Regions from separate parts of the Homo sapiens genome. Here region 2 is linked to region 1. Evidence: fine-mapped expression QTL. A gene starts in region 1. The other region holds a variant in brackets. All regions are shown on one strand. Distances are from middle to middle.

Region 1 (11,999 bases):
TTCATTGGTAGAATAGTCACAAACTTTGTTCCATACCTTAATCTTTTTAAGTTAACAGGGGATCCTAGAGGCCACTCTGCAGTGGTGTGGCAGTATTCCTTATTCTTGTTGTAAGTTGGGTGCTGTTCCAGGATATTGTCGGTGGGAATTTTGGTTCTTTTTTGCTATTACAAATAAGAAACATTTGAATAGTTTTGTAAATCTACCTTTTTCGTGGTTTTGCTTGTATACTTTTTTCACTGGAGAAGGGGGAATTCTGCATGAAAATGTAAATTTTAAGTGTTAGAATGTGAGGATTTGCAAACTTATCTTACACAGACTTGTGTCATTTTCCTTCTAACCGCCAACATATGAGCATACCTGTCTACCCAGGGTCTCTCCACTAGAGTGATCTGAATAATTTGAATGCTAGCTGTGTGGTAGGAAGGAGCCTCCCCACCGCTCTCAACACCAAAGATGTCCATGTCTTAATCTCAAAATCTGTTCATTTGTTACTTTTCATGGCAAAAATGACTTTGCCAATGTGATTAAAGGATCTTCAAACAGGGAGAGCACCATGGACTATTCAGGTGAAGGCACTGTAATCACATGGGTCATTATAGGAGGGAGGCTGAAGTGTAAGAAGCAAAGGAGACCTGATGACAAGAGAGATGCAGCCTTGTGACAAGAAATGAGGGCAGCCTGTAGAACAGGAGTCCCCAACCCCTGGGCCGCAGACCGGTACCAGTCTGTGACCTGTTAGAAACTAGGCCACACAGAAGGAGTTGAGCAGCGAGCAAACGTCACCGCCTGAGCTCTGCTTCCTGTGAGATGAGTGGCAGCATATTCTCACCGGAGCGTGAACCCTATTGTGAACTGCGCATGTGAGGGATCTAGGTTGAACGCTTCTTATGAGAATCTAACTAATGCTTGATGACCTGAAGTGGAACAGTTTCACCTTGAAACCATTGCCCCATCCATCTTCCAGAAATCCCATCCCTGGTGCCAAAATGGTTGAGGACCACTGCTCTTGAAGCCAGCAAAGGCAAGAAGTAGATTCTCTCCTGGAGCCTCAGGAATGGCAGGCAGCTAGGCCCAGACATTAATTTTAGCTCATAAAGTATATTTTGGAATTCTGAACTACACAACATAATTTTTTTGTTTTGTTTTGCTTTAACTGCTATGTTTATGGTAATTTGTTACAGCGGAGATAAAAAAATGAATACACTTCTCAGTATGATAGGTAAGAAATGGTATCTCAGTGTAGTGTGAATTACACTCCTCTTATTTTGAATGTCATAAGTTATCTTTTTTAATGTTCATAGTACTTAGAATAATTTGTATGGACAAAGCACGTTGACTGAGCTTCTGTTGCTAACTGGAGGTATCGGATATTTAACAACACTTAGAAGTTTGGATGGCAACATTCATTTAAACTGTGAGACAGTAATACCTGTTGAGGTGCAGAAACTCCACTACCCCTTCAAGAATCCTTTTTTTTTTTTTGAGACAGAGTTTTGCTCTTGCTGCCCAGGCTGGAGTTCAGTGGCGTGATCTCGGCTCACCACAACCTCCGCCTCCCAGATTCAAGCGATTCTCCCGCCTCAGCCTCCCATAGCTGGGATTACAGGCATGAGCCACCACGCCCGGCTAATTTTGTATTTTTAGTAGAGACAGGGTTTCTCCATGTTGGTCAGGCTGGTCTCGAACTCCCGACCTCAGGTGATCCTCCTGCCTCAGCCTCCCAAAGTGCTGGGATTACAGGCGTGAGCCACTGCACCTGGAAGAATCCATTTTTTTTTTGAGACAGGGTCTTGCTCTGTTGCCTGGGCTGGAGTGCAGTGGTGTGACTATGGCTCACTGCAGCCTTGAATTCCTGGGCTCTAGCAATCCTCCCACTTCAGCCACCTGAGCAGCTGGGACTACAGGCATGGGCCAGCATGTCCAGCTAATTTTTTTGATTTTTAGAAGAGACGAGGTCTTACCATTTTGCCCAGGCCAGTCTCAAACTCCTGAGCTGAAGCAGTCCTCCCAGCTCGACCTCCCGAAGTGCTAGGATTACAGGTGTGAGCCACTGCACCTGGCCAAGAACCCATATTTAGAGTCAGACTCACCATATCCTTGAAGAAACCATTCCAAATATTATTTAAATGACTCCGTATTTTTGACCATCCTCATTCTCCAGAAATAATAACCAAAAGTAACTATATCTCTGGGATTTCTCACTAGGTAAACAATCTTAAATGAAAAAGAGAGATAATAAGAATAAATGTATCCATTCTTCTTGCTTCAAGATTCTTGCAAAAGGCAAAAAACATCAAACTCCCATTAAAGTTTTGGCTATAGCTTGTCCTTCTTTAATTCATTCATTTAACAAAATGTATTGATAACCCACTATGTGCTTGACATCTACTTAGACACTGTAGAAGGAACAGAGGACAAGATACGGGTCATTTCTGCCCTGAAGAACATTATAATATAAGGCAGGGAAGAGGCTAACTAATGTTTGGACAATCAAATGATGTTACTACACTTGGGCACCACTGTTTAAGAATCCCTGGGCTGTAAATCAGGAACTGTGAGTTTGTTGGGATTCTGCCAGAGACTCTGACTCAGTGCTACTCCAGGAATTTTATCTTTCAGACCTCTCTTTCTTTTTGTAGGAATTCCTACTCTATCCCATATAAGCAAATCTCAGGGACTAAGCAAGTAGATGTTAGCAGTCAACCATATGTAAGATTCTTTTATAAAATTCAACATGATGGCGTGAATAAACTCACTATGCTACCACTGGTTGTGAAACCTGAAGAGATTAAACAAACTTTGCATTTTCTCAAAACAAACAAAAAAGAGTTTGTTAGAATTAATAAAGCTGACCCCAAGCTAGGATAAGTTGGATCCAGTGTCATACAAGGCCATTTCCAATTCTAAACAAATAACGTTGACCACATGGAGCCTGTGGGGAAAACTGGTCAACTCTCACCTGAAGTTCCAAAAGTTGAGAATATCATATTCTGTCCCAGAAATTAATTTGTAATCCAAATTCACCTGGTCACCAACACTGTTGTTAAATTTGATATTCTTCAGAAAGGAGTTAAGCTTAAAAATAGTGCACTGTTACAGGATGGAAAGAGTTCTGAATTTGGAAAGAAGAAACTTGAATTAGAGTAATACCTTTGAAACTTATTAGATGTGTGGCTTTGGAAAAAGTCCCTTATTGTTTAAATCTTCAACTGTAAAGTTAGTTATTCAATTTTATTTTTACAAGAATTATGTGAGATAATACCTTTGATGGCCCATGAACAAAAATGTGGTATATATAAAGTAAAAATTAGATAAAGAAAACATTATATATGTAATGTAATGATAATTTAATATATAGTATGATAATGGAAATACCCCTTACTTCCTTGGTGGGATGAATGAGGACAGAAGAATCAAAATAATCTCTTGTTATTGGTTGAATTTTGTCTGCCCCAAATTTTGCATGTTGAAGTCCTAACTCCCAGTACCTCAGAATGTGACTGTATTTGGATATAGGATTTTTACAGAGTTAATTAAGTTGAAATGAGGTCGTTAGGGTGGGTCCTAATGCAATCTGACTAGTCTCACCATGTCTCCATGGGTTTTCTCTGGGTACTCCAGATTCCTCCCACATCCCAAAGATGTGCACAGTAAGTTAACTGGTATGTCTAAGTTGTCCCAGTCTGAGTGAGTGTGGGTGTGTAGTAGGCTACACAATCTAGGTTTGTGTAAGTACACTCTATGATGTTTGCACAACAAGGTTCTTAGGAAATTGCCTAAGAACCCATTTCTCAGAATGTATCTCCATCCTTTAGCGATGTAGACTGTATTTCCATACTGTAAATAGTCCCCTTGTGGTGGATTTCAATCTACCAATATGACATCACTGAATGTGGAGTTAGAAAGAAAGGTACAGTTCATGGCTCTCAGTTCCTACAGCTCTTTTAATTTCCTAAATGACTGCAGCAATAAAGTATCTTTTGTTAAAATATCTGGCCTTTTGTTCCTGGTTCCTGAAAAAGCTCCAGAACAGCTCCAGAGCCATAAAGGTGAAAGACAGTATTTCAACCACACATGAGTTTATGTTAATGAGGTGATTTTTGGAAACTCTCAAGATAATCCCAATATTTGGGGGGAGTGGTGGCTAGTTGCCAGAGGAACCAGCCATGTGCTCAGAGGACTGGAACTCACAGCTCCACCCTCTACTTCTGGGAAAAGAGAGAGCCTGAAAATTAAGTTGATCGCCAGTGGCCAATGATTTAATCAATCACATCTACATAATGAAACCTTGAAAACCGAAAAGGCCTGAGTTCAAGCGGCTTCCAAGAAGGTAGACAAAAACACATCCTCGTGCTGGGAGGGTGGTGCACCCCAACTCCACGGGCACAGAAGTTCCTGCACTAGGGATTCTCTCGGACCTTGCCCTACATGTCTCTTCATCTGGCTATTTGTATCCTTTAAAATATCTTTTATAATAAACCAGTAAACATAAGTGTTTCCTTGAGTTCTGTGAGCTGCTCTAGCAAACTAATGGAACCCAAGGAGCCGGCTGTGGGAGCCCCAATTTATAGCACATCTCTCTGAAACACAGGTACAACAATCTGGAGTTTGGAATTGGCATGGGAAGTGGGGGACAGTCTTTTGGGACTGAGCTGTCTAACCTGTAGGATCTGATGTTTTCCAGGTAGCGTCAGAATTGAATTGGAGTAGCGGTCACCTGGCTGGTGTCTGCTGCAGACAGGTTTTTTTGACATGTTAAGACATTATAAGAGACAATAGAAAAAATGTATACGATACAACCTTCTCTGAGTTATATTTCTCCATAGCCCTTTTTACTGTTCATCAGACTGTTTATCTAACTCATGAATTTGTGGCTTGTCTCTCTCCGCTTCAAAGTAAATTACATAATAAGAGGACAGGGATTTTTTTTTCTCTGCTGTATCCCCCTGAATTGCTTTTCCTTATTTGTCTCACCTTCCAATACTAATTCTACAGTTCTCCTAGTCAGGGCTAGTCCCCTAAAACGGGGACCATTTCCATTTTGTTAAGGGGCTGAACGCGGTTCAAGCCTAGCAGATTGGTTCCAAAAACGTCGTGTTATTCACTGCCTCTGATCAGTGACATTCCCATTTGCAGCTGAAAGAGGTATTAATTCGCCAGAGTCACAACACGGTCGGGGTTCCTCGTCGCTGTCTTATTCCAAAATAAGCTTAACACAGAAAGATAATGACACTCCCACGGACTGGCACAGAAGGCCGCGCTCCGAATGACATCGCGATCACAGAGGCACAGACAGCGTCACAAAGCCCCACGCGTACTCACACCGAAGGCTCAGCCGTCGCGCGTTTCCCTCCCAGGCCCCAGGAACTAGTAACTAGGGACGCTTCTGGTCTCTAGGCGAGGAGAGGGGGAGAGCGCAATCTTTGCGCCTGCGCACACTCCTGCTCTTACCCGCCGGAACCCTGGGCCACGCCCGGCTCGCGTAATCACGCACTGCGCAGGCACCGCCCGCTCTGCTCTAAGGTCCCTCTCACTCCTTCAGCAGCCCGAGGACAATCCCCTCAACACTAGGCCACGCCTTGTCTCCGCCCCTCTCGTCCGACCCCTGGAGAGAGGCTGGCGCCTGCGCGATGGGGGGTTCCAGCGTCGACTCACGGAGTCCTTCGGATGAGAGCGTCTGGGTGCCAGACGAGGCCGGGGGTTTGTTTTGGGTGGTTTGGGAGTCCGAGCTCGAGGGCTGGGCCAGGAAGGGCAGGCGAGGCGGGCGGCTCCGACGCGGGTCGCGAAGGCCCAGCCGCGTCCTCTGTCCCCAGGACGACTACATTTCCCAGAGGCCAGCGGGGCGCGCGTACTCGAGTCTGCGGGGCGGAGGCCGCGGCTCGGGGCTGCTGGGCGTTCGGGGCGGCTTGGGGCGGCGGGACCACTGGAGTGAGCTGTGGGAGAGATGGGGGTGTGCCTGTGTGTAAAAGATCTGTCAGAGTGTGAGGCTCCGTGAGAGGGTGTGGTTTCTGTGTGTGTGTGTGTGTGTGTGTGACAGACCGAGAGTCCAGTGTGAGACCAGGGTATGTTCGTGTGTGACAGAGCGAGACGGGCCAGTGTGAGAGACCAGTGAGTGTGAGAGAGATAGGGATGTGCCTGCATTTGAAAGAGAGCGTGTGAAGCTCAGTGAGAGGTTGCGAGGTGTGTGGGTGTGTAAGTGTGTAACAGACCAGGTGTCCAGAGCGTGAGACCAGGATGTATTCGTGTGAGAGAGTGAGACGGGCTGGATGGAGTGTGAGAGACCAGTGAGTGTGAGAGATGGGCGTGTGCCTGTGTGTGAAAGGCCGGTCGGTCGGTGGGTGAGGCTCAATGAGAGGCCGGTGTGTGTTCGAGAGAGAGAAGAATCACCATGTATGCGAGACTAGACTGTGCAAGAACAGAGTGTGAGACTGTGGTATGTTAATGTGTGAAAGGGAGACCAGTGAGTGTGAGAAATGGGTGTTTTGGGTGAAAGACCCGTCAGTGTGTGAGGCCGTGTTATGTGTGTCTGACAGACTGAGAGAGACCAGAGTGTGAGACCAGGGTGTGTTCGTGTGTGAGAGACAACATAGCGTGAGACCAGTGAGTGTGAGAGAGATGAGCACGTGGCTGTGTGTGAAAGACCAGTCATTATGTGAGGCTCCTTGAGAGGCTGGTGTGTGTGTATGAGAGAGAGAAAGAGACTAAACTGTGAGAGTCCAAAGAGTGAGACTAGGTTATGTTGTTATGAGTTTGTGAGAGAGAGGGAGGCGATCAAAGTATAGGACAAAGTTATGTTTCCTGGCTTACGACTTCTAAGATCCTTGGAATCTCCAAAGTATTAAGTGTCTTTTTGCATGCTAATGATTGGTGGGCTGGCAGCCTGTAGGTTGATCACGGTAAGGGATGGTCACAAGAACAATCTAGGCAGGATTAGAGGGTTGGGATTACCTGCCCCATCCCTCAATCTCCAGGGAAAGGAAAGGGAGCCACAGGTTAAACTGATCATCAGTGGTCAGTGATTTAACCAGTCATGCCTACATTATGAAGCTTCCATAAAAACCCAAAAGGACTGGGTTCATCAAACTTCCAGATAGCTGAACACTGGAGGTTCCTGTAGGATGAGCCCCTTCCTATATAACCTTGTCCTATGCATTTCTTCACCTGCATCCTTTGTAATATCCTTTATTACTACAAACGTGTTTCCCTAAGTTCTGTGAGCTGCCCTAGCAAATTAATTGAACGCAAGGAGGGGGTCATAGGAACCCCGATTTATAGCTAGTCAGAAGCACAAGTAAAACAACCTGGGGTTTGCAACTGGCATTGGAAGTGGGGAGCAATTTTGTAGGGCTGAGCCCTCAACCTGTGGGATCTTATGCTGTCTCCAGGTAGATAGTGTCAGAATTGGGTTGCCCTAGAGGTCACCCACCTGGTATTCACTGGGTTGCCCTAGAGGTCACCCACCTGGTATTCACTGAAGAACTTATTGCTTGCCTGGTGTGTGTGTGTGTGTGTGTGTGTGTGTGTGTGTGTGTGTAGATCCCCACACATCTGGTCTTAGAACTGTTTTGTGTTGTGTGAGTGGAGTAGGAGAAACAGTTTGTTTTTCCTCTTTGTCACCTGAGTGTGTTATCAGGGACTGGATTGTGAGAATCCAGAGTGTGAGACCAGGGTATATCAATGTGTGAGAGAAATAGATGTGCCTGTGTGAAAGATGAACAAGTATGAGGCTCCCTGGAGTCTGAGAAAGATCATGTGTGTGTCTGAGTAAAAGCAAGAGACTAGACTGAGAGTTCAGTGATTGGGAGAGACTGGGGTATGTTGGTGTGAGTGTGTGAGAGACCAATGGGTATGTGAGAGACTAGAGTATGTCTCTGTCTGGACTGGTAGGTTGTGAGAGGGTGTATCACAGTATGAAAAAGATTGGAGTGAGAGTGACCAGTATGTATTTTGTGTGCATGAGATAAAGCAGTTGGAATATGAGAGATCAGAGTGTGTTTGTGTATCTGTGTGAGACACTGGAGCATTTGAGTAACTGAGGCCTCTTTGAAAGATACCATTGAATGTGTATGTATGAGAGACCATCATGTTTATATGTGTGAAAGAGGGAGAGAAAGACTAGTGATGTGGTTGTGTGAGAGACCAAAATGGGTGAGAAAGAAACTATGTGAACCATGGTGTGTTATCCAAAAGGCTTTACAAATATAACCTCTGTGAGGTTGTGAAGCATGCATGTGTGAGTGAGACAGAGATAAGGGACAGTGAGCTGTGTGTGTGAGAGAAGTAAGATTGGGGGTATGTGTGAAGGTGTTGGTGAATCACCACGTGTGCTTATATTCATGTCCTCAGGCAATGGAAATGTGACTGTGTATATGTGCTTGTTTTGGGGTGCTTGTGATTGTGTCCTCCGTGTGACCATGAAACCTGTGTTAGTGTTTGTATGTCACCCTGTATACCCATAATTGTGGCCCTGTATGACTGCTGTGTATGGAGAGACTACTTGGAAGATTGATAGGATTGGATTCTTTATGAGTGTGGCTGTTTGGAATTGTGTGTTGCCGGGATAGGAAATGTGGAATAGAATTCCTGTCCCCAGTCCAAGGGTTTCAGTAAGAAGCAAAGCTGGGGTGACTGAAGCTCCTAACTGAAGCAGGAGACACCCTCACTTCTGTGTGACAGGAGGGTAATTAAGGGGCTGGGACAGAGGTGAGAGTGAAAGTGGCAGAATTGAGTGCTAAAGGTTCCATCGTTTCAGGGTGAGGAAAGTGAAACAGTGCCGGGGGGTGGGTCAGGGATGCAGTGGTGGGGATTGAGTGAAGAAGGAGGATAACCCTGGCCTCTGGTGGCATTTGGGAGTCAGATTTTCCTTTTTCTTTTGTTTTTTTTTTTTTCCCAAAAACCCCATCCATCTGGCCCAGAAAGGAGCCAGATTTTCAAACAGTAGACTTTCAAAGCATGAAGCAGAGACCCAAGAAGAGAATGACTCCACCTTTACCTGTAAAATGGAGGAAATGACTATTTTATAGGATTATTTGAAAAATAAAGTGAGATAATCTAATCTATGCAGAGTACCTAATGCATCTGAATGGGAAGGTAGCTCTTTGAAAAAGATTAAATTTAGGACCTCAAGCATGAAAAAAAAAAACCGTTATGAGTTTTAGCCCTTCAGTGGCCATAGGTTGCTCATACCCAGTTATGGGATCAACCAAAGCTGGGAAGAAGAAGACAGTTTTAGGCTAGTGATTCTGGGAGTGCAGCATCTCTGGCCTCATCTCTCTCTAACCTTTCCCTTCCTTCAGCCTTGCCCTCCCAAGACACTGTTCTTCAAGAGAAAGACCAGAAGAGAAGGCAAAAATGAATGTTGAAGTAGTAAAAGTCATGCCCCAGGTTAGTGGATATTTTCTTTCTCTTCATGAAAGGCAGTCTTGCTGTTTAGGACTTTTTGTAATGCTTCTTTTCTTTTGAAAATTCCCTGATTAACAGTCCAGGAGCCTAGTTCCCACTTCTCTCAGGGGCCACTGTCTTTAACTCTAATTACCTAATGAGTGAGTAATAGCTTAGTATAAAAAGTCATGGAGGTCCCTCTGAGATTCCTCTTCCCACCTTGTGTACATTTTAAATTTAGTGTTGACTCTTGTGAAAAGACTTGATTTATGTTGTGTGGAATATACATGTGGATATGTTAGTACTAGTGAGTTGGGCTCCAGGTTAAATGTGCATGCAGTGCGTTTCCTATATATAGAATGCATTAGGAATTATTCCTCTACCTGAAGTTTTCTCCAAATCTCTAATTATGTCCTTAAGATAAATTCTTTAAAAGTTTTTCTTTACATTTTAAGTATGAATTACCAACCTCATTCGTTCACCTGAAAAATCTTATTCTACTTAATTTTTGCAAATTTTATAAATTTAAATAGGTGAGAAGTTGACATGGTACAAAATTTACAAACAAATTTCACCCTTAACTCCCAGTTATTTTAAGAAGTTATTCTCACCATGTATCTCATTCAGAGCTATGTTATGCCTTTGCGTGTATACAAAAATACTTTCTTCCCTTCAAAGTTAATGATTTTTCGTGTCTTGTTGATGAAATTTTTGTCTACCTTTAGGTCCTATTTTTCTTCTAAGATTTGTTTTATCCTTCACAGTTAAGTTTCTGGTAAGCTTAGACTTGATTTTTGTGGTTTTCTATCATGGTAGGGCTGAAATTACATTAACTTTTTATGTTAAATTTAATTTACATTAGATTTTTACATTTAATTTACATTACATTTTTACATTACATGTATAATTTATAATAAGTGAGGCAGAGATTTATTTTTTCAAGTTGGCACAATGGCATTAATTGAATTATTCATCTCATTCTCACTAATTTGAAATGCCACCTATATCATGCACTAAATTCCTGTGTGTATTTGGTTCTGTTGCTGTACTACACTCAGTTTTACTTGAATTTCTGCTTTTAATCTTTTAATTTTTAAATATTATATTGCACATGTATAAGAAACAATGTATAAAAAGGAATCCTTAATTCTCCCACTGTGAAATTCCCCTCCTCACATTTTTTCTAAGTGGAAAATGTGTTTTCATGACATACATGAGTGTCAGATGTCCATAATTAATGCTTAATTAATTTATATGCTTCATATGGAAAGTTACGTTAAATTAATTTTGAAACACTGCTTTTTTTTCTTGTGCTGTCAGAGTTCATGAGATATTAAAAAACATTTACATGGATTCTGGGCATCTGTGTCTTCCTCAGCATTAAAACCATTTTGTGAGTTACCTAACATAATTTTCCAAAGATACAGACCTTTTAGTTTGTGTGCCTCATGTTGTCATTAAAATTCTACCTGAAGTCACAAGCACCATACACAACAGAATTAGTCCCCTCCAATTTGCCCTATAGAAGTAAGTTGGGATCTCCACAATACAACTTACTGTCTTTAGTTTTGATATTTAACCTCATACTCCTGAATAATGTTCCATACACTATTTCTTGATTATTTTAGTTTTAGAAATGATCCAGTAACCTACTACTATAGATGATAAAGATGCAGTCCATTAACCCCACCACCTGAAATGCACACACACATGCTTATTTGATAGACTGTAAACATTATTCACTATTTTTGTTTTAAGTCAGTGTTCAGCGTAGCTTGGTGTCTTTCATCAATTTGGAAATTTTTCAACCACAAATATTCTGAAACTTTCCTCTTTTTCTAAGATCACAATTATATACATAACTGACACTGTTTTATATGTCACTTATGCTTTAATTCTCTCTTTAATTCTCTAATCTCCTGTTAAGCCCATAATGGAATTCTTAACTTCTGTTATTGCATACTTAGTTCTAGAATTTCTATTTAATTGTTTTATGTAATTTTCTATTTTCTTCCTGAATTCACTACCTTTCCTTTTAGCTCCTTAAAAATATTATCATAATATTTTGGTATCCTTGTTGGATAATTCCATTATCTGGATCTCTTATGTGTTTCTATTTTGTGATGTTTTGAAAATTATCTTGTTTTTTGTCTTAAATGCCTCATTTTGGGTTTAGTGCTAGACTTTATATATTTTTAAAAGATAGTTTGAAGCTTTGATGTCCTCCTCTTGAGAAGGTCTACTTAAAAAATAAATTTTATTTTTTAGAATAGTTTTAGATTTGTAGAAAAATTGCAGAGATAGTGTAGAGAAATCTTATACCACACCAAGCTTCCCCTATTAATATTTTACATTAGTGTGGTACTTTTGTTAAAATTAATGAACCAATATTGATATGTTATTAGTAACTAAAGTCCGTGCTTAGTTTAGATTTTCTTTCATTGTTTTAACTTTTTAATTTTTTTTTTTTTTTTTTTTTTGAGACAGAGTTTCACTCTGTCACCCAGGCTGGAGTGCAGTGGCAGGATCATAGCACACTATAACCTGCCTCTCCAGTTCAAGCAATTCTCGTGCCTCGGCCACTCGAGTAGCTGGGATTATAGGCATGCACCACC
Region 2 (11,999 bases), 32 kb after region 1:
CTGCACACCTGATCTGTGCCCTGCCTCAAGTTCTGACCAGGAGGCTTCTCACCCAGTTCAAAGTGTCACAAAGTGCAGCTGGAGATTTCCTTCTCCCTTTGGTGTTTTCCCCCTCTCACCTGAGTGCCCTCCCAGTGGATCCCTGTGGTGCCAGGCAGGAATGGCCTGCCTGGGGTCCAGCAAGCTCCCAGGGTCTTTCCCGCTGCTTCCTCTATCCCTGTATTTTGCTCAGCTCTCTAAATTGACTCAGCTCCAGGAAATGTCAGAAACTTCTCCCACAAACAGACCTTCAGTTTCTCCAGTTGGGGTGGGGTATGTTTGGAAGAGGAGGATCTCTCTTTCCCATTTCCGAAGTTGGGGCACTCACAGTATTTGGGGTGTCTCCTGCCTCCTTCAGAGGGTCTGTGGGTACTCTTGGGATTTCTGGTTTGTTCTTGCAGTTGATCTGGAGCTAAAATTCATAATCGGAAATGGTATTGTATTTTGAATTTTAGTTACTGCCTGTTCATTGCTCTGAAGCAGTGTTTTTCTCCCCCCAACTTTTTTTCCTTTGTGCTTCAGATTGGATAATTGCCATCAATCTCTCTTCAAGTTCACTTAGTCTTACTTCTTTTGTTTCCATTCTGCTTTTAAGCCCAGTGAATTTTTTATTTCACATGCTGTGTATCTCAGTTTGATGAAGGCCAATTTATCACTCTACTGCTTTTAAAGTAGGCTCACAAAATCTAACCTAAGTGAGGTTTCACCTCTTGGTCTGAGGCTTTTTTTTTCCATTTTCCAATTAATAATAAGTTATGAGTAAATATTATTTATAATAAAAGACAAAGTCTATGCCACTGCTTTCCATTTTCAGGACTACCTATGGAAACCTTTGCTTTCCAGTCTGATGTTGACAGACCATTTTAACCAAAGCTGAATGAAAGTATTTGGGGTTTATAATAATTTTATTCCATCTTCTTATCCAAGTAAGGAAGCTCTCCACCATTCCTAGTTTGCTAAGGCTTTTTCTTTTTAAAATCACAGGTGTGAGCTGCATTTTATCTCAATCATCTATTGAGATGATTCCAGGAACTGTTTCATCCTTATTTATTAATAGTGGTGAATGATATTAACAGGCTCCCCACCGTGGCACTCCTGTGATAACTTCTTGGCAGTATGTACTGTTGGTTACCTGCTTGGCATCCAGTCTCCTTTTTGTCTTTTCTAACAAAACTCAACTTGTGCTCAGGTGTCTCTTCCACCCTCAGATGATTCATCGAAAGCTGACTGAATTCCCAGTGACAGGAGTAGACTGCCCTTCATCTTAGCCAGATATCACAAGGCTATTCCTGAGTGACTAAGGAAAGACTTATGTCCCATGATGTGGTAAGGCCCTATGGACATAAAACATAAAATACCTCTCCAGAGAAAAATATAGAATCAGAAATTATGATTTTATAGAAAATTCATATTTTTAATCAGTAGATTCCTTGGATAACTAAATTCATTGGACTAAGTATTATTTCCCAAATCAAATGTCATTATGTTGTACATTCTGTTTGTTAAACATCTGACACCTAAGCATATGACATCCTTTCTTTGTGCTATAAATTTTATTTTTGCCTATTGTGAGTATATATTACTCTTTATACTGAATTTTTAAAAAAATTAATAAAACAATTTATAAATATGGCAAATGTGAAGATTGGCAGTAGTTCATAAGTTGTATCAGCTTAATCTAAATGATTCAGCCGGGAGATTATTCATCTTTCTTGTTGGTTTCTGTTTTTCAAAAAGCTATAGTTTTGGGTTTATAAAAAAAGCACAGTGTAACTCCTGGTGGTTAAGATGAGATATTTTGTCAACTTCCTGCTGCAGGAGAACTTAATAATGAAATTATTCTTATAGCTCTCTAAAAATTTGGATATATTGAAATATTTTTCTTCATAATTCTTTAGTGTGCTTCTGTTGCTTCTCTGCTAAATATGAACAAGGACGCATATAGCCCCATATAATAGGAAAATAGGATATAGCAGTCATTTGAGGATAAGTGACTGCTACAATAAGATAAAAAAGGTATTGTCAACTCTGTCAATAAAGAAGATAGATTTTATTGCCTTCTCAAGTAACAGCTTCCCATGTAGGTAGGTAGCAGGTCAAGGCAAGAAGACAGCTTTGCTCCATGATGTCATCAAAGGACCTGGTTCCTTCTATGCCATTTCTCCATCAACTCAGGATGCTGTCTTTATCCACATAGGTGATGCCTCTACATTCCAGAACATGAAAGTATTCTGACATATCTTCCTTGGACATGACATATTTTTCTATGTATTGCTGGACTTTGTTTATTGTCACTTTAGGTAGGATTTTAATGTGTATGTTGTCCCTGAAGATTGGAATTCTTTCCCTACTTAAATTCTTTCCCTACTGTCCTTGTCCAGTTTTGGTATCAAGGGTGTCTAGTTTTAAATTCTCCAGTATAGTTTTATAGGATAAGGATTATTTATTGCTTTGGTATTCATGGAAAAGCCTGAGAACTTATTTAATGATTTTCCATTTCTTCTTGAGTCAGTTTTGGTACTTATAATTTTCTCTATGGTAAGCCCCTGCATATGTTTTAAATATATTGAGATAAGGTGATCACAGTATTTGCAAAATTCTAAAAATTTCTGTGATTATGTCCACTTTTTCATTTCTAATACCATTTCTTTGATTGTTTATTTCTCTTTTTTTCTGCTAAGCCATCTTTAGCATAACTTTCATCCTCATGATGCCAAGGTGGCTGTTTGCAGCGGACCCTATCCTTGTTGGACTGAACAAAGGATGACAAACATGGGAATAAAGACAAAGACAAAAGAGTATATTTGGAAGAAGAGGTCTGGGGGCTCCTTGCTTCCAGTGAACACAGGCCCTGAGCCTTTACAGCCCTTCGTATTTATTAGAGTGAATAGGGAGAAGGGGGGTGGTTGTCGGTCAGTAGCTTGATTTACAGCAGGCTTGCAAGACTGCATTCGTCAACCAATAGGCTCTAGATGTCCCATTAGATAACCTCAAGGAGCATGACACCAGGGAGTGATTGCCTTCAGCAAACCTTCTGGTGGCTGGAGCAGAAGCGACTTTGCCCACATTCTGCATTCATGATAAACAGTTTGCTGTTTGATCATATAGCCTCCAGTGGAATGTTGAGTTGGCCACGATCCCTTTGCCAGCTCTCTACAGCTGTTCTACCTGTTGACATCCTGTGTCATACCCAAGCAGGAAGAAGGTTGTGTGAGATGACAAAAGGCCAGAGTTACATGCCAGCTGTGTCTCTTTCCACACATCCACCAAACCCCCAGCAAATGTGTACTTAAAATTCATTGGTTACAGAGCCACTACTCCTTACAAGGAGACTGGGGAGGTGAGTATTATAAGCTGGGCAGATGGCCACTTGAAGAGCATCAATGTTCTGCTGTGGAAGGAGTGCAAAATAGACACCAGAGAGACCATTAGCAGTGTCTGCCACAGCTATTACATGGCTAGGTCCACCTGACTGAAACTAAGCCTTTTCTATGAGACTGAAGTGCTTTGAGAGAAATGCTGACCTTGTCCTTTCTGCAGCTTGCGGCTTTCAGTCACCCTTGGATTCAGAGATAGAAGTCATCTTAATTCCATCACTGAGGCCAGGAGACCTGAAAGAAATCAATTCAAGAGTAAGGAGACCAGGCGTGCAGTGTGACTGGGCGTGCAGAGGTCAGTGCATCTGTGATGACTGGTGTAACAGCATCACTGCCTGTGAGCCAGCAAGGCCCTTGGCTCCCAGGATGAAGCTCTCCAGTTCTGATAAGGCCCCTGGGGGAGAGACCGGTCCTAAACATGTTCAAGAATAAATCCATCAGCTAACTTCAGACCGTGATTCACACAGGAAGGGAACTTTAAGAGGTCGCCAGGGCTGGTATTTTTGAGACGTTAGGCAGCCCTCTCTGAGGCGATGACAAGTGAATGGCATAAAGGAGCCAGCCCAGACGAAAATTTGGGGTTAGACTATTTCGACCCAGGACGTGCAAATACATAGGTTACAAAATGGAAAATGGTATTTTGGAGGATGGGAGGCCCGTGTAGCCAGAGATAATGGGAGAAGGTGAGGGGGCACCCAAAACAATCCCACAAGCTCTCTACATCCCCCTTCCTAGCCCACACACATCACCCATCAGAGTGATCCTCCGGACTCCGGAGGCCCCCAAGATTGCCTTTCCCTTCCCGGTCGGCAGTGACGCTCCCGCAAGGAGCTGACGCCCAGGCCCTTAGCACCTGTCACAGCCAAGCACCCTTTTACTCCGGCCCTGCGGTCCCACCCCTCGCCGCAAGCCCCGCCTCACCCGGTCTGCCGCTGCGCCTGCGCGACTCCCAGAAGCCTTTGGGGGGTGGGTGTGTAGTCAGAGCGGCCTCTGCTTCCGGCCACACCCAGGCCCAGCGTTGGCCACCACTTATGCGGCGGCTGCGGTCCAGGGACAAGTGAGAGCGACCCGCAGAGGGCAGGACGGACGGGCGTTGCATAGGCCCGGGGCCAAACCGTATCTTGCAACCTGAGCTCCGAGGGCCGCCGCATCCGTCCCTGCTTGGGACTACGCTTCCCAGCGGGCATTGCGCCGAGGCCACGCCCGGTTCCGGCGGCGCTGCCTGCGCACTGGAAGTGGGAAGCGCCGGGCTTCTCTAGGCTGAGGGGCGGGGCGGGGCGGGGCGGGGCGGGGCGGGGCGGGGCGGGGCGGGGCGGGGCGGGGCGGGGCAGCGGGGAGGGGTGGGGAGGGGCGGGGCGCGGCCGGGGGCGGGGCGGCTCCGCGGCGCGGCCCAGTGGATGCCGGGCCATGGGGGAGCGCGCGCGGGGCTGTTCGCTGGGCGTGGCGGGCGGGTGTGGCCAGGGGTGTGGGTCTGTGAGGGACCGGTCGGAAGGGCGTCGCGCGGCCTCGGGTGACATGCGGGGGGCGGCGAGCGCGAGTGTCCGCGAGCCGACGCCGCTCCCGGGTAGAGGCGCCCCCCGCACAAAGCCCCGGGCGGGCCGAGGCCCGACTGTAGGGACTCCAGCCACCTTGGCCCTCCCTGCCCGGGGAAGGCCGCGCTCAAGGAATGGCCTCGCATCCAAAGGCCAGCGAGGAGCGGCCCCTACGGGGCCTGGGCACAGAGGTGAGAGTGACAGGTGTTTGGGGCCGAGCGGACAGGGACGAATTCATCTCGGGATGAGATCTGGGAGGGGGTTGGGCTCTCGGGGACCAGTTGCTGGAGAACTGTGCCCCTGGTCTTTGAAGCTGGTGGAGTGGGAGAATCTGAAGATTTGGAAGCTCAACTGATTCAGAGCAGCAAGCCGCGGTAAAAGGGTGTTGACTTTCCCAGGGTGACTCTAACTAGAC[G/A]CTTTTCCTGTTTTCGTGCTCCCAGGGAGGAAAAAAACCTATCTCCACGTTGTGGCAGTCCCTAGGCAGGGTAATGATCTGATCCCACCTTTTCATGCAGGAAGGGACGTTTCTAGGCTGGTGATTTGGGACTGTGGTGTAGACCTGGTCTCTAGCTACTCCTTTCTCTTTCAGCTCTGCCTTCCAGGGACACTGCTCTTCCCCAGGAGAGAAACAAGAAGCTGGAGGCTGTGGGGACAGGAATTGAACCTAAAGCCATGTCCCAGGTGAGTTGGCATTTCATCTCTTGTCTCTGAAATGCAGTCTTGCTTTTCGGGACTTAATGTTGCTTATTTTCTTGAAAGTTTTCAGTTTAAGAGACCTGTTTGGGCGCGGGTTTCTATTTCTTCACGTTCTAGTGAAGTGATGGGCTACGGGGAAAAGTTTAAACTGCCCGGGGCCTCGATGCCTGCTTCTTCTTCATCCCAATCAGCCTTCATTCTTGATTGATGAAATGATTCAGCCTCTCCCTTGTACCGCTTTTCTCAGAGGGACTCTGATGGAGGAATTGTGCCCCTTGAGGAACACGGCAGACTCTTCTGCTATACATGGTTTGTTTGGTGACCACTTTGTGCCAGCCACTGAGCAAACCAATAGCTAAGCCCTAGTCCCTGCTCTGGAGCTCACAGCCTGTTGACCCAATGTCAAGGAAACAAGCAAGATTCTAGAATGTGATCATCCTTGGGCCAAGTATTATGAGCGAGGACTACAAGGCGCTCCTGGCTTCCAGCCTCCTGTAGCGGAAGGGTAGGCCTATTTACCAAGGAGGTGATTTTTGAGCCTTGCCTTGAAGGGAGAGAAGATGTTTGGGAGGCACAGTAAAGAAAGACAACATTTTAGGGAGAGGAGGCGCAATATGAAAGGCTTTTCCACTTGATTTTGTGGCTTTAAAACATGCCAGTAAATAGTTGTGTTTGTTTCGGTTGGCTTCTCCTATAAATATCATAGCTAGCTCATTAATAGATGAACCATTTCACTTCCACTGAGGCCTCAAAAAATATATGTACAGATGAACCAGCTTCCAGTTGTCCTACCCAAACTGCTCTTGAGTGGGTTACTGTGATCTTCACATTACCAGATGCAGTGCTCAATTCTTAGTCTTTTTTGACTATCATTGGTATTTGAAATAGCTCAGAGGCTGGCAAACTTGTGCTGGATGAGGCCACAGCAGAAAATATGTTAGGCTTTGAAAGTCCTGCTGCATCTACTCCTTTCTGCTCTTATAGAGCTAAAGTAGCCAAAGACAATATGTAAATGAATGGATGGGCTGTGTTCCAGTAAAACTTCAGTTACAAAACAGGTGGCTACCTATCCCTCAAATAGCTCATCCCTGTCCTTCAATAGGCCCCCTTTTTTCCCTTGGCTACTGGGATCTCACACTCATCTGACTTTCATCTTCCTGACTGCTCAGTTTTTGCCACAGTTCTTACCTCCGTGACTTGAACAGAGTGTGCCTCAGCACTCTGCTCATGGCCCTTTCTTTTTTTGTCTGCATGCTGTCTCCTGGGGATAGTAGCCTGTTCCTTGTCTGTACAACCTACCCACATGGTGGCTCCTCCCAGATTCACATTGTGAGCCCAAACCTCTCCTCTGAGCCGCCGGCCTGTGTATCCTGCTCCACTCCTCTGCCTGAGTGTCTGATGGGTAACTCAAGACAGCCTGTCCAGACCCGAAGTCCTGAGAGTCTCCCATAAACCAGCTCCTCCCACAGTTTGAGTCTTAGTCAGTGGCCGTTTCATCCTCTCAGTTACTCAGTCCGGAAGCCTTGTCATGATTGGCTCATTTCTTGCCTTTTCCTTCCATATTTGGTCCTGATGCAAATCCTGTCAGTTCTATTTGCAAATTATGTGCAGAATCTGGCAGTTTTCATCACATCTATCACCAGCAGCAGGTCCAAGTCCTCCTTTTACTGTGGGCTTCTTGACTGTGCTTCTGTGACCTCCTGCTTCTGCTCACGCTCCCCACAGCCCCTTCCCGATGAGCAGCCAGAGGGGTCTATTCAAACATGTCACCTTGTGTCACGCTGTGCTCAGGACCCTCCAGTGGTTTCTCTGAATAAAAGCCAAAACTCTTCCTGTTACTGACCAGGCCCTACATGACCTGGCTCCTTGTTACCCCTGACATCTACATCACTCTCTTCTTTCTGAAAAATCGCCTTCTCATTTTCCTGCTCACCCTGTCTAGAATTTCAGAGCCTCCTACCTGTTCTTCACATCCCTCTTCCCTGCTTTGCTTTTTTCTTTTAGTACTTTTCTTTTGAGACAGAGTTTTGCTCTGTCACTCAGGCTGGAGTACAGTGGCGTGATCTCGGCTCACTGCAACCTCCGCCTCCTGAGTTGAAATGATTCTCCTTCCTCAGCCTCCCGAGTAGCCACCACACCTGGCTAATTTTTTTTTTTTTTTTTTTTTTTTTTTTTTTTAGAGACAGGGTTTCACCATGTTGGCCAGGCTGGTCTCGATTTCCTGACCTCAAGTGATCCGCCCACCTCAGCCTCCCAAAGTGCTGGGATTACAGCCATGAGCCACTGTGCCTGGCCCTCGTAGTACTTTTCAACATACTATATACAGAAATCCCACGTATACCAAAATTTGCACTTATTCATCAGCCATGTGGAGCCTGCAGATATGAGAAGTCAGCCCTCAGTGGACACAGGTTTTCCATACCACAAATAATCTTTTTTGAGACAAGGTCTCACTCTGTCACCCAGGCTGGAGTGCAGTGGTGCCATCACGGCTCACTGCAGCCTTGACCTCCCCAGGCTCAAGCAGTGCTCCCATCTCAGCCTCCGAAGTAGCTGGAATTACAGGCATGTGCCACCATGCCCAGCTAATTTTTGTATTTTTTGTAGAGATGGGGTTTTGCCATGTTTCCCAGGCTGGTCTCGAACTCCTGGCCTCAGGCAACCGCCCGCCTTGGGCTACCAAATTGCTGCGATTAGAGGTGTGATTCCCCGCGCCCAGACAATAATTGTATTTTCAGTCTGCATTTGGTTGAAAAAATTTGCATATAGGTGGACCCTTGCAGCCCAGATCCATGTTGTTCGAAGGTCAAATGTATTTTACTTAATTTATCTCAGTTTCTCTTGTCTCATTTCCTTACTTCATAGGCAAGGATTTGGGGCAGTTTTGCCTAATGTCTGATACAGAAAATATTTGGTGGATGAATGTTTGAATATAGTCTTAAAGTTCTCTTGTGGCCAGTGTTTTGATATTTAGTATAGTGTTAGAATAGTCATTTTTATACCTGAAAATGTGCTTCGTCCCTGATTTTTTTATTTTGTTTTTTTGCTTTTAGAGACAGGGTCTCACTCTGTCACCTAGGCTGGAGTACAGTGGCACAGTCATAGATAATTGCAGCCTCAAACTCCGGGCCTCAAGCAATCCTCCCACCTTGGCTTCCAAAGGAGCTGGAATTGTAGGTGTGAGCCACCATGCCCAGCCCCTGATTATTTTGTATGAATACATTCCTAGAAGTTTTTCTTGCCTCATGGATTAAGGTTTCCTAAGCTTATGTGAAATCGGAATACTTCTAAAATTATTTTTGGATAGAACAGCAGTGGTGCCTCAAAAGCTAGAATTCATGTTTTGAAAAAAATGTACACTTCATCAGGAATAATAGTTATTACCAAATAAATGTTTATTTGTATGTTTTAAAAATTAACTGAATTGAATTTAAACAAATCTTTTTAGTGTATTTTTTCTATAAAGTACTTCATATTCATTCTTTTCTATGAAATTTCAACAGAAAGATTTTTCTGTAAGTATAAAGTTGCTTTTATTTTTTGTTGGTATTCTTTTAATGTCTCTATCTTTGTGTGTGTGCGTGTGTTTATATATTATATAGAATATATTATATATGTATATTTTATATATATATTAATATATGTATATTATATATATATGTATATATAATTTTTTTAAGAGATGGGAGTCTCACTGTTTTGCCCAGACTGGAGTATATTGGCTATTTTCAGGCACAGTTATGGTGTACTACAGCCTCAAACTCCTGGGCTCAAGGAATTCTCCTGCCTCAGCCTTCTGAGTGGCTGGGCCTATAGGCGTGTGCCACCATACCCAGTTCATATGTATATTAAGATGAGTTAACTTACATCAGATGCCTATATCAGGAGTAGATTCTGTGCCTGTATAATGTTTTCTCTGTGGTATAGTGTAAAAATGTGAAACCCATTTTGAAGTCTGCATATTTATGTTGCAGCAACAGGAATAAGAACAGGACCTGCACATTTGACAATGTTTTGTCTCCACCTAAATTAAGTAGGTTGATCCAGACATCAGTTAGGGAAAGTTCATTTTATTTTTATCTGAAAACATGTTTTCTACTGGAACTTGTTTCACTGTCAGGGTGAATGGATACTAAGTATTACTGCTATTATCAAAGTGGAACCTTTTAATAGAAGTAGAATGGCAAAGTGGTCAAAGGTCATGGACTAGGTTCACATGCTAGCCCTAGCATCTAATCATTGCGTAACCTTCAGGCAACTCAAGTGACCACATTTTCTTCATCTGTAAAATGAGGAAAATAATTGGACCTGCCTCAAGCAGTTCTTGTAAGGATTAAGTTAAGATGTGTATAGTGCCTGGATTGAGGTACCTGGCACATAGTAAGGACTTACTAGTGTTAGCTGGCAGCATCCTCATGTCATCATGACGGTTTTAGAAATTTACAGGCAAGACACTTAGATGGCGTACTTCAAAAAAAGTGTTTAATATAGGACCGAACTGGGCAAATTATGGCCTATAGGCCAAATCCAGCCCACCACCACCTCCTTTTGTGTGGCCCACCAGCTACAAATGAGTTCTACATTTTTCAGTGGTTGAAAAAAATCAAAAGAAGAAGAATACATGAAAATTAAATGAAAGTCACATTTTGGTGTCCATAAAAAAAATTTCATTGTAGCACAACATACTTGTTTGTTTATGTATTATCTATGACTGCTTTTGTGCTACAGTGGCAAAATTGAAGAGTTGCGGCCAAGGCTATTTGGCCCACAAAGCCTAAAATATTTACTTTCTGGCTCTTTACAGAAAAACTTTGCTGACACCTGAAGTGGAGGTTAAGAGCATGGACTGTGGAGTCAGACTCCTGGGTTCAAAACCCAGCTCTACAGCTGACTGTCTGTGATCCTGGGCACATTACAGCTCAATATTTTCTCATCTGTAAAATGGGAATAGTAATAGTACTGACTATTAGGATCGTTGTGAGGATTAAATAAGCTAATATATAAGTATATAGAATTGCGTCTGAAGTGTTGTAAGTGCTTTCAGCTATTGTTATTGCTGTTATTTACAGTAAAAGACATTTTTAAAACAAAAGTCATTGATTCTATACATAAAGAGCTGTCCGAATAAACAGAAAATGTCTTAGGAGGATATATGTATATTGCTAACGTTGGGTCCCTCTACGTGATTACATTGAAGGCATTTAACAAACCACTGGTACAAAAGCAGATCACTAATGCATAGCATGATCAACCTGGGAAACTAGGGTTGATTCTTCTTGGCAAGCAAATAAGTTCCTCTTCTTTTATGCCAAGATGCTTCAACTTGCAAAATTATTGCTGAGAGCTGACCAGCATTTGTTTTAGACTAGCTTCCTCAGGTAGCCATATTAGTGTGTCTTTTGCTCAAGGACATTAAGCAGTTCTTGGCTGTTTCCTGCAAGTATTACCTCATGGTTTACACTGCAGGGGGCCTTTCAGTCCCCAGCTTAGGAGACTTCTCCATGATGAGTTTACCATCAAGAGTGTAGCTCTGCAGTTGACTGATTCAACTCCCTCTGCAGTTGATATTCACTCAAATTGGGATATCACTTACAAAACCCTTTTGACCTATTTTTACACAATTCAGTTACAAATGTCCTTAAAGTTTGGTAGCAGGTTAAAGAACAAGTGATTGTATATTATTCAGCAGATATCAAACCTCAAAGGGACTTTTGTTTCTAGTAGAATAATGTGAATCTTTAAAAGGTTCAGCTCTTGGTTGGTGTTGTGGTTTGTTAAGTGAGGTATTTAAATTAGGTTTTGTGTAGTCAGATGCAGCATGGTGAGGGACACTTAGAGCAGAATGGCAAAAAGATTGTTTATTACTCACAGATTCCAGAGAACAGTGGCCAGCACACCTTGCAGGGCTTACTGGAAGGGCTTGGAGACATTGAGGACACACATGCCCAGCCAAAGGGTGGGGACCAAGAGAGAGGGAGGGACCTGTGGGCTGGAGCCTTTATTGGGGTTCAGGGCATTATCTAGGTGAGTTTCCCAAGACAGGGTTGGCTTGGATACTTTGAAGGGAGCTCAAGGCTCAGTAAGGGAACTTGAAGGCTACATTATCAGGTTCACCAGGCTTCATGCAGAAGGACAGTAGTCATTTCATAGTATGGGGCCTTTTCTATCTAGAACACACAAATGGGGACTGGGTGAGGACTGCCTGAAAATATATAGGTCAAGGGTGACAAGCAGAGGCAGCATCCCTATGGATGAGAGTTATGACAGTCAGCATCATTACAAGTCATGTTCACTGCATGCTTCCATTGTGCCTTGCACGTTCTAAGTGCTGTGTATGTGTTGCCTCATTTAATCC

What was found. PIP is the estimated chance that this variant, and not a neighbour inherited with it, causes the effect.
Region 2: its variant is fine-mapped to the expression of ZNF471 in esophagus muscle (GTEx, PIP above 0.99). The same link has a PIP of 0.9 or more in coronary artery.

The regions. Positions count from the first base shown.
Region 1 is chr19:56,502,218-56,514,216 of GRCh38, forward strand. ZNF471 (zinc finger protein 471) reads left to right here and starts at 5,638. Exons shown (of 5, transcript NM_020813.4): 1 at 5,638-5,703; 2 at 9,300-9,387. The coding sequence starts at 9,355. It overlaps LOC124904776 (a long non-coding RNA gene), which reads right to left and starts at 1,533. Exons shown (of 3, transcript XR_007067352.1): 1 at 1,433-1,533; 2 at 207-256.
Region 2 is chr19:56,534,088-56,546,086 of GRCh38, forward strand. ZFP28 (ZFP28 zinc finger protein) reads left to right here and starts at 4,861. Exons shown (of 8, transcript NM_020828.2): 1 at 4,861-5,139; 2 at 5,538-5,629. The coding sequence starts at 4,932. It overlaps ZFP28-DT (ZFP28 divergent transcript), which reads right to left and starts at 4,647. Exons shown (of 3, transcript NR_183967.1): 1 at 4,338-4,647; 2 at 3,564-3,650; 3 at 2,069-2,245. ZNF470-DT (ZNF470 divergent transcript) reads right to left here. Exons shown (of 2, transcript XM_047439806.1): 2 at 11,488-11,999. The variant G/A (reference allele first, on the strand shown) is at 5,364.